2 linked regions of the Homo sapiens genome follow. The main gene of each other region encodes a partner of the protein of the gene in region 2 in a complex. Each region holds a gene or a part of one and is shown on either strand. Other genes may lie near its edges. A codon is read from its position in the direction of its gene.

Evidence for each region. The genes of interacting proteins can lie anywhere in the genome.
Region 1: the proteins of SENP2 (region 2) and SUMO3 are in contact, whole or in part, in a crystal structure (PDB 2IO1), measured with the Homo sapiens proteins. Residues at the interface, in NP_067640.2 of Homo sapiens: Gln385, Asp386, Phe393, Lys394, Leu395, Arg396, Trp410, Leu411, Asn412, Asp413, Glu414, Ser439, Thr440, Phe441, Pro444, Lys445, Arg456, Trp457, Lys459, His474, Lys476, Val477, His478, Trp479, Met497, Gln499, Gln542, Asn544, Gly545, Ser546; in NP_008867.2 of Homo sapiens: Arg55, Arg58, Arg60, Phe61, Asp62, Gly63, Pro65, Asn67, Asp70, Leu75 (codon at 2,960), Asp81 (codon at 2,942), Asp84 (codon at 2,933), Phe86 (codon at 2,927), Gln87 (codon at 2,924), Gln88 (codon at 2,921), Gln89 (codon at 2,918), Thr90 (codon at 2,915), Gly91 (codon at 2,912), Gly92 (codon at 2,909), Val93 (codon at 2,906), Pro94 (codon at 2,903), Glu95 (codon at 2,900).

Annotation. Positions count from the first base shown.
Region 1 is NC_000021.9:44,804,081-44,808,906, forward strand, and holds the end of SUMO3 (small ubiquitin-related modifier 3 isoform 1 precursor), read right to left. Parts: intron 2,961-4,826; coding exon 2,871-2,960; 3' UTR 1,537-2,870; downstream 1-1,536. UniProt on the Homo sapiens protein: Ubiquitin-like protein which can be covalently attached to target lysines either as a monomer or as a lysine-linked polymer. Does not seem to be involved in protein degradation and may function as an antagonist of ubiquitin in the degradation process.
Region 2 is NC_000003.12:185,580,503-185,589,936, reverse strand, and holds the start of SENP2 (sentrin-specific protease 2), read right to left. Parts: upstream 3,643-9,434; 5' UTR 3,524-3,642; coding exon 3,423-3,523; intron 1-3,422. UniProt on the Homo sapiens protein: Protease that catalyzes two essential functions in the SUMO pathway.

The DNA of each region.
Region 1 (4,826 bases), on a different chromosome or scaffold from region 2:
AAAATTAATGCTTTCTATCTTTAGCAACTAAAGTTCTGAAATATAAAAAGGACCTCACAGCTTAACCCATGTTATACGGTGGGGTTTTCCCATGAACATCACGCGTTTCCAGCTGGGCACTCCTGCAGCATGGCTAAGATGACAACTCAAGTTCCCTGGGAGTGGGGGTTCCTGGGATGTGAACCTTTCGGTGCAAAAACTGGAGAAGTTCCAGTTGGGACCCCAGGCATAGATACTAGGATAAATAGGGCCTCTCTCCTCCAGGAGCATCAATTTAACCCAAAGATTCTTGGAGTCAGTTTCACATAAGTAATCTTGTTGAAAATAGTAATCCCAACAGATCTATTTTTCCAAATGCACCATTTGCATAAATCTCAGAAAAAAGACAACTTCAAGAACATACCTTTGCTGGGCACCATGGCTCATGCCTGTAATCCCAACTACTTGGCAGGCTGAGGCACGAGGATCACTTGAGGCCAGGAGTCTGAGATCAGCTTGGGCAACTGATTTATGGTTTGGATTTGTGTCCATGCCCTTCCTCTTCTGCCATGATTATAAGTTTCCTGAGGCCTCCCTAGCCATGCTTCCTGTACAGCCTACAGAACTATGAGTCAATTAAACCTCTTTTCTTTATAAATTACCCAGTCTCAGGTAGTTCTTTATAGTAATGTGAGGATGCACTAATACAGCAATATAGTGAGAGCTCCATCTCTACAAATCTTTTTTAGAAAGACAGGACATCCTGCTGGTTCTGCTGTGAGGTGTTGTGGGTGGAAGTTCAAGCAGCGCTGCCCTAATACATCCACATATGCTCCTGGCCATTATTCTTATCTAACCTACGGTGCCTGGGACACATCCCTTTCCTCATTGATTTTGGCAGCCGCTTCGCCCCAGGCTGCCTAGGGAATCTGGCAGATGTCCCCATCCTGTATTGTGCCTTAATCCGTGCACTCTTCCTGGTGCAAGTGAATCACGTGTTCCATCTCCACAGCTGCCCATCTTTCTTCACCTTGGGTTCATTCAACTGATGGGCTAAAACAGCTCATTTTCAACCTGGGTTTTGTTACACCACTGCACACTGGGAAATTCTTAAAGCCAAATCAATGTCAGTTCAGTTTCAAAGCAGATAGGTAAGTTGTCCATGGCAGAAGGAAAGCTGACTTACATTCAAACACCAGAAAACGAGAGATGTCCTAGACTAACACCCAAGCTCACCTGCCTCTAAAATCCACCCTTTCTTTACATACGAAACCCAGGAGAGGGAGGGTAACATGTCACAGTGATGCCAGCTCAGACAGCTGTCAGCCAGGAGGTCTCTGAGGAGAGGATGCATCCCTCAGCAGGAAGAAGGCTGGACTAGCATTGGTGATGTGCCAGGGGAGGGGAAATGAGCTGCCAGGCGAATACTAACCTTCCAGCGGCTAGCTTTTCAATCAAAGTTTCTCAGTGCAGTGGCTGCCTGGAATGGTCAATTCAAACACTGAATTGTACCAGTATGCCCCAACCTTCAAATGCAGTGTTTAGTAGAAGCCAAGAGACAGAATACCAAACTATATTTACTGTTTACAGTAGTAAAGGACAACAAATAATGTACAAATTGGTGAATAAACACAACAGAGCCAACAAACATCCCACCCGAGCCCATACAGCAAACAGGAAATGAGAACATTTCAGCAAGATTTCAAGCAAGCAAGAGATGATGGGTCATTGTTCAGGTGACTGTAAAAAGGCAGAGAATGGCCACCAAGCAGCAATGGAGCCTCAGGGAAGGACAATAGGCAGAACTATGAAAATGTTTAATTGGTATAGATCCCAAAATATTTCACAGAACTGAAATCACCAGACTAATGCATAAATTCAATACCTATTTGGAAAGCAGCACGGCACAAACCCACGAGAAGAACATGAAGTCATCATTCCATGGGTTCATTTGTAACCACACTTGGAAGTAGCTCTTATACACGACAACATAACTGCAAATTCAGCAATACTTAGTCTTACTTTTTTATGTATAGACCATAATCATTCATCAGAAGCAAATACTAGAAGAAATCTGAGGCCACAACACCATTACCAAATGAGAAATGTGGGAATTTCTTCAATATTAAGAGGGAGAAAAAGGCCAATTTTGGTTGTGCCAATCCTTGCCTGTGTACCAACGCCAGGTACTGAGCAGGGAGTGGGGTGGGAGGGGTGGCAGGGGGGTGGGTCCTGGGCCTCAGACCCCGAGGTTACATGCTTGAGGGCCAGAGAGCACGTGGGGTCAAATTACCAAAAGACTCGGTTATTTTTTAACCTTTGAAGAAGCATTCCAGTATTTTCCCTTCAACTTTTCCATATACTGACAAAGCTTAAATTTGCAATATTTAGCATTTTAATCACCTGTGCCTGTAACAGCAAGTGACAGTCTGTCCTCCCTACCAACCTTGCCCCCAATACCTGTCCAACAGCTGCATCCCCACTGCGGGAAACACCAATTCTCTATGTGACTGGAGTGAGCAGGGGAGAGGCAACCAACTCAGGAGTCAGATCCCTGGCCAGACTAAAAGCGAACATTCAGGCTATAATTTTGGGGTTAAAAAAATGTTGTAGGAGGGGGGGAAAACACAAATGAGCACACAAAAGTACCCACAATATCTTGCAACTCATTTTACCTGAACAAAGATAACAATTCTGATTGGCCCAATTTAAGTTACAGATTCATCCCTGCAGATATAGTTTTGAGTTGCACTTGAAGTACATCAAAGAGAGGAAAATCATCGTGGTGAATGTCCTCGAGTTTCCGCAGACACCTTTGTGGTCGGCATGGTCACGTGCTCACCATTCAACAGCAATGCGAGGATGGACGGCCCGGGCTGGGGACGGGCCCTCTAGAAACTGTGCCCTGCCAGGCTGCTCTCCGGCACACCTCCCGTCTGCTGCTGGAACACGTCGATGGTGTCCTCGTCCTCCATCTCCAGCTGTCATGGTTGTCACAACAGGCACAGCGAGAGAGAGGGGAGCCTGTTAGTTTTCATCAGAGAGTGGGAAGATCCTCACTGGCATGAGTGTTCCCTGACACTAGCGACATCACCTGGTCACACCTTGGCTCTTGTCCGTCCCCTCACTGCAGCTCAGCACGCATGGAAGAGGCATTGCTGTATGCTCACTACAGCCCTTACGGTTCAACAAGCTTCCCCTAACAAAACTCACAAAAGCAGATTCAAAGCTAAAATGTTAACTGAGAGAAAAACTGAGTCTAGAAGATAAACTGAAATGTCTAAAATTCTTACTGAAAATTACACAAAATCAGATTCTAATTAAGAACATCTGATTAGCAGCACTGAGTCCTAGGACCCACAGGAGCCTTGCGCTTTATACCAAGTGCGGGGGACCATGCCATGAAAGCCAAAGCCCCCAGCTCACAGAAGGGCCCGTCAAGTGAGGGTCCATTGCCAGCTTCTCCCCGCCCCTCCCCATTTAAAGCCCAGGCAAGGTAGTGAAACACCCCCGCTCACTTCTCTCCTCCTGACACAGTGGGCGCAAAACACCCACCCTGATCTTCTTCCATCCTCTAAGCAAGAGGAAGCTTCTGCCAGTTCCTACACAGACTCAGCAAGGCTGGAAGTAGTCATGCTCCCAGATGGAAAGGAGTCCCATCAGGGCTGTCGGCCACCCTCACCCTGCCACCGACACTATGGGCTGGAGGGAGAGCCCCCAGGCAGGGCTCCCTCTGCCTCTCGGTCCACCTGTCCACAGCCAGCCCCCTGACCCCCAGTCAAGCCCCAGAGACTCCACGAGGCCCTCCCTGCTCAGCTGCTCTCAGCAGCTTCTCCCTGGTGAACACTCCCAGAGCTGCCACTGCCTCAGCGGTGTGTAGGTTTCCTCAAGTAGGTACAAATGGATACTTGTTGCAAAGATGTTTTCAATATTTATTAAATACTGAATAGTAAATATTTAAAATCTTAAATGTTTTGCAAAAATATTTCCACATAAAACATTCCAGTGGATTCTCACAACATTGAAAGGGAGAAAAAGCAGGTATTGGTTCCATTTATGGACAGACAAAACTGAGACTCCACAAGATGAAGTGATGCTTGGTCACGGGGCCATCAGCTGACAAATGACAAGAGCTGCAACTTGAACCAAGTTTAAAAAAAAACTCTGTTTCGGCCGGGCGCGTTGGCTCATGCCTTTAATCCCAGCACTTTGGGGGGCTGAGGTGGGCAGATCACAAGGTCAGGAGATCGAGACCATCCTGGCTAACATGGTGAAACCCCGTCTCTACTAAAAATACAAAAAAATTAGCCGGGAGTGGTGGTGGGCACCTATAGTCCCAGCTACTTGGGAGGCTGAGGCAGGAGAATGGCGTGAACTCAGGAGGCAGAGCTTGCACAGTGAGCTGAGACTGCGCCACTGCATTCTAGCCTGGGCAACAAAGCGAGACTCCGTCTCAAAAAAAAAAGTCTGTTTCCAGGTCCAAAGCTCTTTCCATGACAGTATGATGCCCTGCAACGTGATAGATGAAATCTCATTCATGTCTGCATGTGCCTGAGAGAAACGAGCTGTGCAGACTGATAATCAGGGGTTATGGCACATTCTGCCCACCCACGTCACTTGTGCAAGATGCTTAAAGGGCACAAGAATCCAGCTGGCCCCTAAGCTGCACACGGGCTACAACAGCAAGCGTCCAGACAATGAGTGGGAAGGGGCCGCTGAGTGGTCCTTGCACCCCCGCTTCCCTTACAGTGAGGACGGGCCCAGCACTTGGCTCCATCTCCAAACAGCAAGAATGATGTCTGCAAAGCAGTTTTCTCATTTGAAAATTTAAATTTAAAATGTGAAAA
Region 2 (9,434 bases):
CAGCACTTTGGGAGGCCAAGGGGGAGGATCGCTTGAGCCTTGGAGTTTGACATCAGCCTGGGCAACAAAGTAAGACCTCATCTCTACGATAAAAAAATAAATAAAAAATTAGCCAGCCTTGGTGGTAAGTGAGTGTGGTCCCAGCTACACTAAGGCAGGAGGATCACTTGAGCCCAGGAAGTAAGGCTGCAGTGAGCCCAGGTCATGCCACTGCACTCCAGCCTAATCAAAAGAGTGAGACCTTGTTTTAAAAAGAAATAAAACTAAAAATAAAAGCAAAACAAAAGAGAGAATGCTATTCTATAGTAGGCTTTTCACATGCGAAGACTTACTGCTACAGTTTCAACTATTTGAGAGAGAAACAAACTTCTTACCAAATAATAATTTGCCATCTGGTTAAAGTACAAACTTAAAACTGGCCAAAGTCACTTAGCTAGTAAATGAACCCAGGTAAGAGTTTAGGACAGTATTTTCTCTTTCGCTCCAGAAATGATTTAAAAACAACAAACAAGCAATTTCCTTTTGAAAATGATCCCCAAAGAAAGCCATCTTTTACTTTAGGTGACAGTATTAATATGAACAGCCTTAAAAGACAATTCTTTTTTACTGTTTTTTCTTTTGTGTGTGTGTAAGGGAGTTAAAAAAAACTGTTCTACAACTTAAAAAAGACAAATCTTAATCAAGTGTTATATTTAACTTCATTTTTATCACGCAAACTACATTATGATGGTAATAAAGAACTTTGGAATTGAGGAAAGTTTCAGGACCCAGATGTCAAGAATGCTAAAGGGTCATAGTATATTACTCATCATCTCTCTGAACCCTTATGATCAATTATATTCACACATGCAAAAAAAAAAAATGAATAGAATGAGATCCCAGGATTCCATTCAGCTCATAACTTTATACATTCCAACAAGCCCTGCCGGGCTTCATTTTGACTGAAAATTGGTTTACACTGAGAAGTGTTGTTTTGGATTAAGGATGTGAACACCTAAAGTATAGTAAAGATCAAGGTTTTGATCGCCAAACCATGTTCCACTGACTAGCAGGGATTCACATCAAGGAGAGGACAAGGGAGAGGAAATTAGCTTTCCCTTATTCCATAAATAGGGACCAAGTGCTTATCATGCACCAGACTCTGCAAAAGGCCCCAGAGTAGGACAGACAAATACTACCCTTATATACATTAAGCATCAGTTTAGGCACTTTACACCACGTTCTCAAATGATCCTTATATCAACCCAACGGAAAGATAGGAGAGAAAAATAAGGCAAAACCATGTATCTCTGGAACACACGATGCAATTTAGCCAACAACCAATCTCATCAATAACCTGCATTCTCAGACTAATGTATTAGACATCTTGTTCTCTCAAGCTCCCACAAATGAACACTTCTTCCACTTTTCTTGATATTGAGGCTTAATTTAAAAAATGAAATTAACGGCCGGGCCCGGTGGCTCACGTCTGTAGTCCCAGCATTTTGGGAGGCCGAGGCGGGTGGATCACGAGGTCAGGAGATCCAGACCATCCTGGCTAACACGGTGAAACCCCGTCTCTACTAAAAAATACAAAAAATTAGTCGGGCGAGGGCCGGGCGCGGTGGCTCACGCCTGTAATCCCAGCACTCTGGGAGACCGAGACGGGCGGATCCTGAGGTCAGGAGATCGAGACCACGGTGAAACCCCGTCTCTACTAAAAATACAAAAAATTAGCTGGGCGTGGTGGCGGGCGCCTGTAGTCCCAGCTACTCGGGAGGCTGAGGCAGGAGAAAGGCGTGAACCTGGAAGGCGGAGGTTGCAGTGAGCCGAGATCGCGCCATTGCACTCCAGCCTGGGCGACAGAGCGAGACTCCGCCTCAAAAAAAAAAAAAAAAAAAAAAAAATTAGCCGGTAGTGGCCGGGCGCTGTGGCTCAGGCCTGTAATCCCAGCACTTTGGGAGGCTGAGGCGGGTGGATCACGAGGTCAGGAGTTCAAGACTAGCCTGGCCAAGATGGTGAAACCCCGTCTCTACTAAAAAAAATACAAAAAATATAAGCCGGGTGCAGTGGCAGGCGCCTGTAATCCCAGCTATTCCGGAGGCTGAGGCAGAAGAATCGCCTGAACCCAGTGGGCAGAGGTTGCAGTGAGCTGAGATCGTGCCACCGCACTTCAGCCTGGGCAACAAAATGAGACTCTGTCTCAAAAAAAAAAAAAAAAAAAATAGCCGGGCATGGTGGCGGGCGCCTGTAGTCCCAGCTACTGGGGAGGCTGAGGCAGGAGAATGGCGTGACTCCCGGAGGCAGAGCTTGCAGTGAGCCGAGATTGCGCCACTGCACTCCAGCCTGGGGGACAGAGCGAGACTCCTTCTCAAAAAAAAAAAAAATTAACACTTGATCACTAAAGTTGAAGAGGGGGCATAGAATTTGTATAGTATTTTATTTTCCAGATTTTTAGGTAAGGAGGTCGATACAATAAAATGGGACACTCCAAAGAGTAGATGCTAAATAAGAATAGCTTTTGGGGCTGAGTGCAGTGGCTCATGCCTGCAGTCCCAGCACTTCCAAAGGCTGGGGTGGGCGGATCACTTGAGGTCAGGAGTTCAAGGCCAGCCTAGCCAATATAGTGAAACCCCATCTCTACTAAAAACACAAAAATTAGCCAGGCGTGGTGGTGCACACCTGCAATCCCAGCTACTTGGGAGGCTGAGGCAGGGGAATCGCTTGAACCCAGGAGGCGGAGGTTGCGGTAAGCCGAGATCGCACCACTGCACTCCAGCCTGGGCGACAGAGCAAGACTCCGTCTCAACCAAAAGAAAAAGAAAAAAAGAAAAGAATAGCTTTGCGTTTCCCCCAAATTTTAACCGAATTTAAGAGTACAGACTAGTGATTGTTTTAAAGGAGTGAGGCACCTAAGCCTTTTTACTCATTCACTAATTCTAAAGCACAAAACCCTTCTGGCCCCAAACACACAGACTGTTTGACAGCTGTTTTGGAACAAAACAGGTGCTGTTTCTTGCTGCAAGGACAGTACTTGCAGTCAAAACGGCTTTGGGCAAGCTATGAATCTCACTTCAACTGCACTTAATGTCTGCAGATGACACTTGCGAGGGTGCTTTGTAAACAGTGAGCCACAACAAAGACAGTATTCCTTCAATGTTAGTGTTCAGCCTAAGAGCGGCAAAGCCCCATTTGTTATCAGCAACCAGCTTGGCCTCTGACAAGAATGTCAAAGACCCTGCCATCACCGGCCGCTACGAAGACGACCAGCTCCTCCTTCATCAGGAGCTGCCTCCCTACAGCCTGGCGGGAGCGACTACGTCACTAGGATCCCGGCGACCTGTTTCGGGTGAGCCTGGCTGAATCAAAGCTATCACGGCCGAGGAGCCCGCTGTGGGGGAGGGGGTAAGGCCAGGCTGGCGCTCAGCCCCCTCTCGTCTCACCTGTCTGAGCGCCGCCTCTTCAGGAGGGCCCGGGCAGGGGGCACCGACCGGTCGCAGAAACGGAAAATGGTGCCGAGAATCCTAACCAGCCATCTGTACATACCAGGCCCAAGCAGCAGCGGCGGCCGACACACCCCGAGACGCAAACCCCAGAGCTGTCGCCGCCGCTGCCGCCTTCGCCGTCTTAACCACCACCGCCAGAGTTCGGTCGCTGATTTGTGACGCGATTCAAGAGCCCACAGATACAGCGTCCCCAGGGCTACCAGAGGCCCCCGCCCGCCACCACTCCTGACGTCACCTCCTCCCGCCCGACCGGAAAGCTCCATTCTCAATCTGCGCACGCGCAACCTAGCACCGCTCCCTATTTCCGAGCCCAGCAACAAGAGTAATTGTGGGACGGTCCCGGCCCAATCGCTGACGAGATCGGAAGGGCTGTCGGCAGGGTTTTCTCTTCGGCGGAGCCAATCCGGAGCCGGCCCGTGGGACAAGGCCCACAGGCCACATGTGAGGCTGCTCCACTCCGGAGGAGGCGTTCCGGGGTCCCAGAGGACATTAGGTGCTCAGTGTTTGCTGAATGCACATGTAAAGGTAGATCAGGTTAATTAACACACGTTTACCGTTTTAGGCGCCCTTTATTTTGCACTTACCTTTTGCCTCGTACTTTTCACGCATTGTCACCTTAATATGCCCAGCAATGGCGTGTGACAGAGAGTCTTAAGCCAGTTTTATAAGTCAAGGAAATTGAGGCATAGAGCGATTAAGTTATTTGTCTAAGATCACAAAACTAGCTAGAGACGTGGCTGGAACTTGAACCCGGGGTCTGAGTACCAGCGCCAGTCCCTCGCCCTTGAGGTCAGTCTACTTGGAGACATGTACATAGATAATTACAAATTACAATACACCGTAAGTGGTTGCTGTGATAAAGGTATGTGCAGAGTGCAGTGGGAGCCAGAGAAAGGAAAACCACACACTGAGGGAGAGAAGGAAAGGGCAGATGTCCTCAAGAAAGGCTTCACAGAAATTTAAGGATGAAACCTGCGGCCCACTAATGTCTCCTACCCTGGGCTAGTAAGTAATGAGTCTCGTTACTCTCCCTCTATAATTCCAATGTCACACTTCTAGTTAATTGTCAACTATAGGCCGGGCGCGGTGGCTCCTGCCTTTAATCCCAGCACTTTGGGAGGCTGAGGTGGGCAGATAGCTTGAGCCCAGGAGTTTGAGACCAGTCTGTGCAACATAGTAAAACCCCATCTTTACAAAAAATACAAAAATTAGCCGGGTGTGGTGGCACGCACCTGTAGTCCCAACTACTTGGTAGGCTGAGGTGAGACGATCACTTGAGCCCAGGAGGTTGAGACTGCAGTGAGTCGTGATCACGCCACTGCACTCCAGCCAGGGTGACAGAGTGGGACCCTGACGCACCCCATCAAAAAATTATCAACTGTAAAACAAATCCCACCCTATTTAGTGATAGAAAATCCAGTCCCCTCTTCCAAACAATCCTAAGAATCCTCAAAGGTTTTCATGCCCCACAAATCCATTCCTGATTAACTTGTTTCCTACTTGTGATTCAGTTAAGGCCAGAGTTTTACACTTGCTTGAACTTCAACGCTGGCACTCCCCAGTACAGCCTCTTCCTTTCCTCAATAGACAGCATTCCAGGCCGGGTGTGGTGGCACACGCCTGTAATCCCAGCATTTTGGGATGCCAAGGCAGGCGGATCACTTGAGGACAGGAGTTCAAGACCAGCCTGGCCAACATGGTGAGACAACCCCATCTCTACTAAAAAAAAAAATACAAAAATTAGCCAGGCATGGTAGTACACTCCTGTAATCCCAGCTACTTGGAAGGCTGAGGCAGGAGAATCGCTTGAACCTGGGAGGTGGAGGTTGCAGTAAGCGGAGATTGCACCACTGCACTCCAGCCTAGGCAACAGAGCAAGACTCTGTCTCAAAAAATAAATAAATAAAATAAATACATGTGTGTGTGTATGTGTGTGTGTGTGTGTGTATGTGTGTATATATATATATATATATATATATATATATATATATATATATATGTAGCATTCCAGAATTGTGCTGCAAGCCACCCCCTAGAGCTTCAGAATCACCAGCCACACACCTGAAGCTACCACCACTCTGGCCTCGGGGGCTGGGGTCATATCCTAGAGGATGGAAGCAAATCCTAAGTGTGGACACACCCGCCTCCCTTATTCCCCTAAGCATAGCAAACACCAACCAGGCTGTTGCTGAAAGTTTGGGGCATTACAAAGCTGAGAAGACTTAGAAGTGGCTATTAGATTATGTAGCATCTATAGTCCCTGGCCTATTGTCTCGCAAAGGAATTCCCTTCACCTCAAGGCCATCCCTTTACTCGTAACACCTTTGGCAAGCTGCCAACAGAAGGGACTTTTCCCTCTACCTCTACCCCGACTATTTCAGGCTGGACTCCCCGTAAATGTAATCAAGAGTCAGGACTCCTATTAACAAAAGACAGTCATTGGCATTATTGTGCAAAGCAGTTCAGTTACGTCTGTCCCTTCCACTCACTATTGAGAGTTGGGCTTTGCCTTTGCCAAACCAAGAAGCCCGCTCAAGTACTGGGAGAGGATTCTCCCAAATAAAAGAGCAGTCTTCATTTAAACACGAATCATACATCCTAAGAGAACAATTTTTTTTTCCAAGTTAAAAAACACACACACACATAAATCAGAAAACTACAAGCTCTGCCAGGCACGGTGGTTCATGCCTGTAATCCCAGCACTTTGGGAGGCCGCGGCAGGCGGATCACGAGGTCAAGAGATCGAGACCATCCTGGCCAACATGGTGAAACCCCATCTCTACTAAAAATTAACTGGGCGTGGTGGCGCGTGCCCGTAATCCCAGCTACTTGGGAGGCTGAGGCAGGAGAATCACTTGAACCCGGGAGGCGGAGGTTGCAGTAAGCCGAGATCACGCCACTGCACTCCAGCCTGGCGACAGAGCGAGACTCTGTCTCAAAAACAAAACAAAACAAAACAAAAAACCTACAAGCTGCTTTTGAATAGCAACTTATCCCAGGTCTGGCCACTGAGATTTAAGAAATACTGTGGTAAGCTAGGTGTGGTGACTCACACCTGTAATCCCAGCACTTCGGGAGGTCCAGGCAGAATGATCACTTGAGCCAGGGAGTTTGAGACCAGCCTGGGCAACACAGGGAGACCTGTCTCTAAAAAAAATTTTTTTTTAATTGGCCAAGAGTGGTGGCATGTGCCTGTAGTCCCAGCTACTTGGGAGGCTGAGGTGGGAGTCAAGGCTGCAGTGAGTTGTGATTTCACCACTGCACTCCAGCCTAAGTGACAGAGTGAGATTTATAGTCTCAAAAAAAAAAAAAAAAAGAAAAAGAAAGAAATATATTGGGGTCACACTTGATAGCCCTGCGGTGCAACACAACAACACATTTTTTTTTTTCTTTTCCTGCCTCATAAATAGCACCCTTACAAACTCAATACTGAAACATTGGCCATCTGCCAGGAAGAGTGAGAAGGCTTCAGAATTACAGATCTCAGTCAGAATCTCAGGACCCCATCAGCAAACAATAACTCATGAATCGAATGTGGCAATCCTCAGCCTCCCACCGTGCATGCTCCCTCCATATCCCCCTAGTTACCCTCTAGAAGGAAGAAAAGGAGACGCATCCTTATACTCGCTCCCACCTGGGACTTGTCTGCCAGTTGGTGCCTTCGCTGTCCTGTGGTCCACAGTAGAGACATGGGTGACTGTCCATCCACTGGCCAAGGAGTGGGATTATCCTTAACCCCAACCCCACCACTGCCACAGCCTTTCCGGGACCTAGCAGCGCTTTACTGGAGGGCCATGGGAGAATCCCAAGGCCATATGGAGTAACAAGGACATTGAGATTTCTGCCCTTGGCTTGGATAATTTGCAGCCTTGTACTGCAAGAGGGGCACAACCTCATCGCTTAAGCTTTCGCAGGTGTTCCAATCAGATGCCCCAGTTCTCCAAGAAGATCCTTATCCCCTTTCAGCTCAGAGCAGCTCCTTGAAGCCTTTTCAGGGCCCCACCCCCTTCTTCCTCCAAACCTACCTCCCCTCCAATCCATTCTTTAGTCTTGCAAATTTCCCCTTTTAAAGCATTCAGAGAACTTTAACAAACTTCTTCTCAACTTTGTTTTTCCTGACCCCTGGACAGAAAAGAATTCTAGGCCATTTGTTGGAAAGGGTAAGGGCCCCTAGAGGAGGTTGTGTCGGGTTAGGCCTAATGTGCCTAAAATCCAACATAATTCACCACTCTGTAGATTAATTTCTTTCTAGGTACCAACTCTTCTGGTACTTTTTTTTTTTTTTTTTTTTTTTTTGGAGACGGAGTCTCATTCTGTCACCCAGGCTGGAGTGCAGTGGCACGATCTTGGCTCACTGCAACCTCCGCCTCCCGGGTTCACACGATTCCCCTGCCTCAGCCTCCTGAATAGCTGGGATTACAGGTTTTTCTTAAGTACCAGACGAGGGCTGGGCGCGGTAGCTCACGCCTGTAATCCCAGCACTCTGGGAGGCCGAGGCGGGTGGATCACGAGGTCAGGCGTTCGAGACCAGTCTGGCCAACATAGTGAAACCCTGTCTCTACTAAAAATACACAAAAATTTAGCCAGGCATTGTGGTGGGTGCCTGTAATCCCGCCTACTCAGAAGGCTGAGGCATGAGAATTGCTTGTACCCAGGAGGCCGATGTTGTAGTGAGCCGAGATCGCACCACGATGCTCCAGACTGGGCGACAGAGGGAGACTGTCGCAAAAAAAAAAAAAGAAAAAAGAAAAAGAAAAAGAAAAGATGATGGATGCGGTGGCTCACGCCTGTAATCCCAGCACTTTGGGACGCCGAGGCGGGCTAATCACGAGGTCAGGAGTTTGAGACCAGCCTGGCCAATATGGTGAAACTCCGTCTCTACTAAAAAAATACAAAAATTAGCCAGGCGTGGTGATGCACGCCTATAGTCCCAGATACTCTGGAGGCTGAGACAGGAGAATCGCTTGAATCCAGGAGGCGGAGGTTGCAGTGAGCTGAGATCGTGCCACTGCACTCTAGCCTGGGCATCAGAGCAAGACTCCCTCTCAAAAAAAAAAAAAAAAGAAAAGAAAAGAAAAGAAAAAGAAAAGTGTTTATGTAGATGAAGGGCCTATTCAGTGCCCAGCACAGCTAACTGTTGCTTAACATTTCTCTTGCCTCTCCTTCCTTCTCATATCTAATAAATCTTAACTTGCCTGGTCTGTATCCTACATTTTTCACAGATCTGTTCATTCCTCTTTCCAAACCTATCAGAACTACAGTCCTTCCTTTTTGTTTTTGAGACAGAATCTCCCTCTGTCACCCAGGCTGGAGTGCAGTGGCGCGATCTTGGCCCACTGCAATCTCTGCCTCCTGGGTTCAAGCAATTCTCTTGCCTCAACCTCCCGAGTAGCTGGGATTACAGGTGCCCGCCACCACATCCAGCTAATTTTTGTATTTTTTGTAGAGACAGGGTTTCACCATATTGGACAGGCTGGTCATGAACTCCTGGCCTCAAGTGGTCCACCCGCCTCAGCCTCCCAAAGTGCTGAGATTACAAGTGTGAGCCACCTACCGCACTACAGTCTTTTATAGGGGCTGATCATTTCTCACGGTTGCAATAGACATTTCTGCTTCTACCTTTCATCTTGTTAACTTATGCTGTTTGCAGGATGATCTCTCTTGTTGTCTTTTGTCTTTTGTTCTTCTGTTGTTGTTAAGAAACTAAATTTTATATTCTTATTTATTAAGAAAGGTAAATTTATAAATTAAGTTTCTATCTTTTTCTATTATCGAATGACTAAAAATGGTTGGATTGATTTTCACCAAATTTGGGAGGTTTGTTTGGAGTGGTCTGACTTAAAATATAGAGCATATGGCAACCTTAAAAATTTTTTTTTCTTCTTTTGAGACAGGGTCTTGCTCTGTCACCTAGGTTAGAGTGCAATGGAGTGATCTTGGCTCACTGCA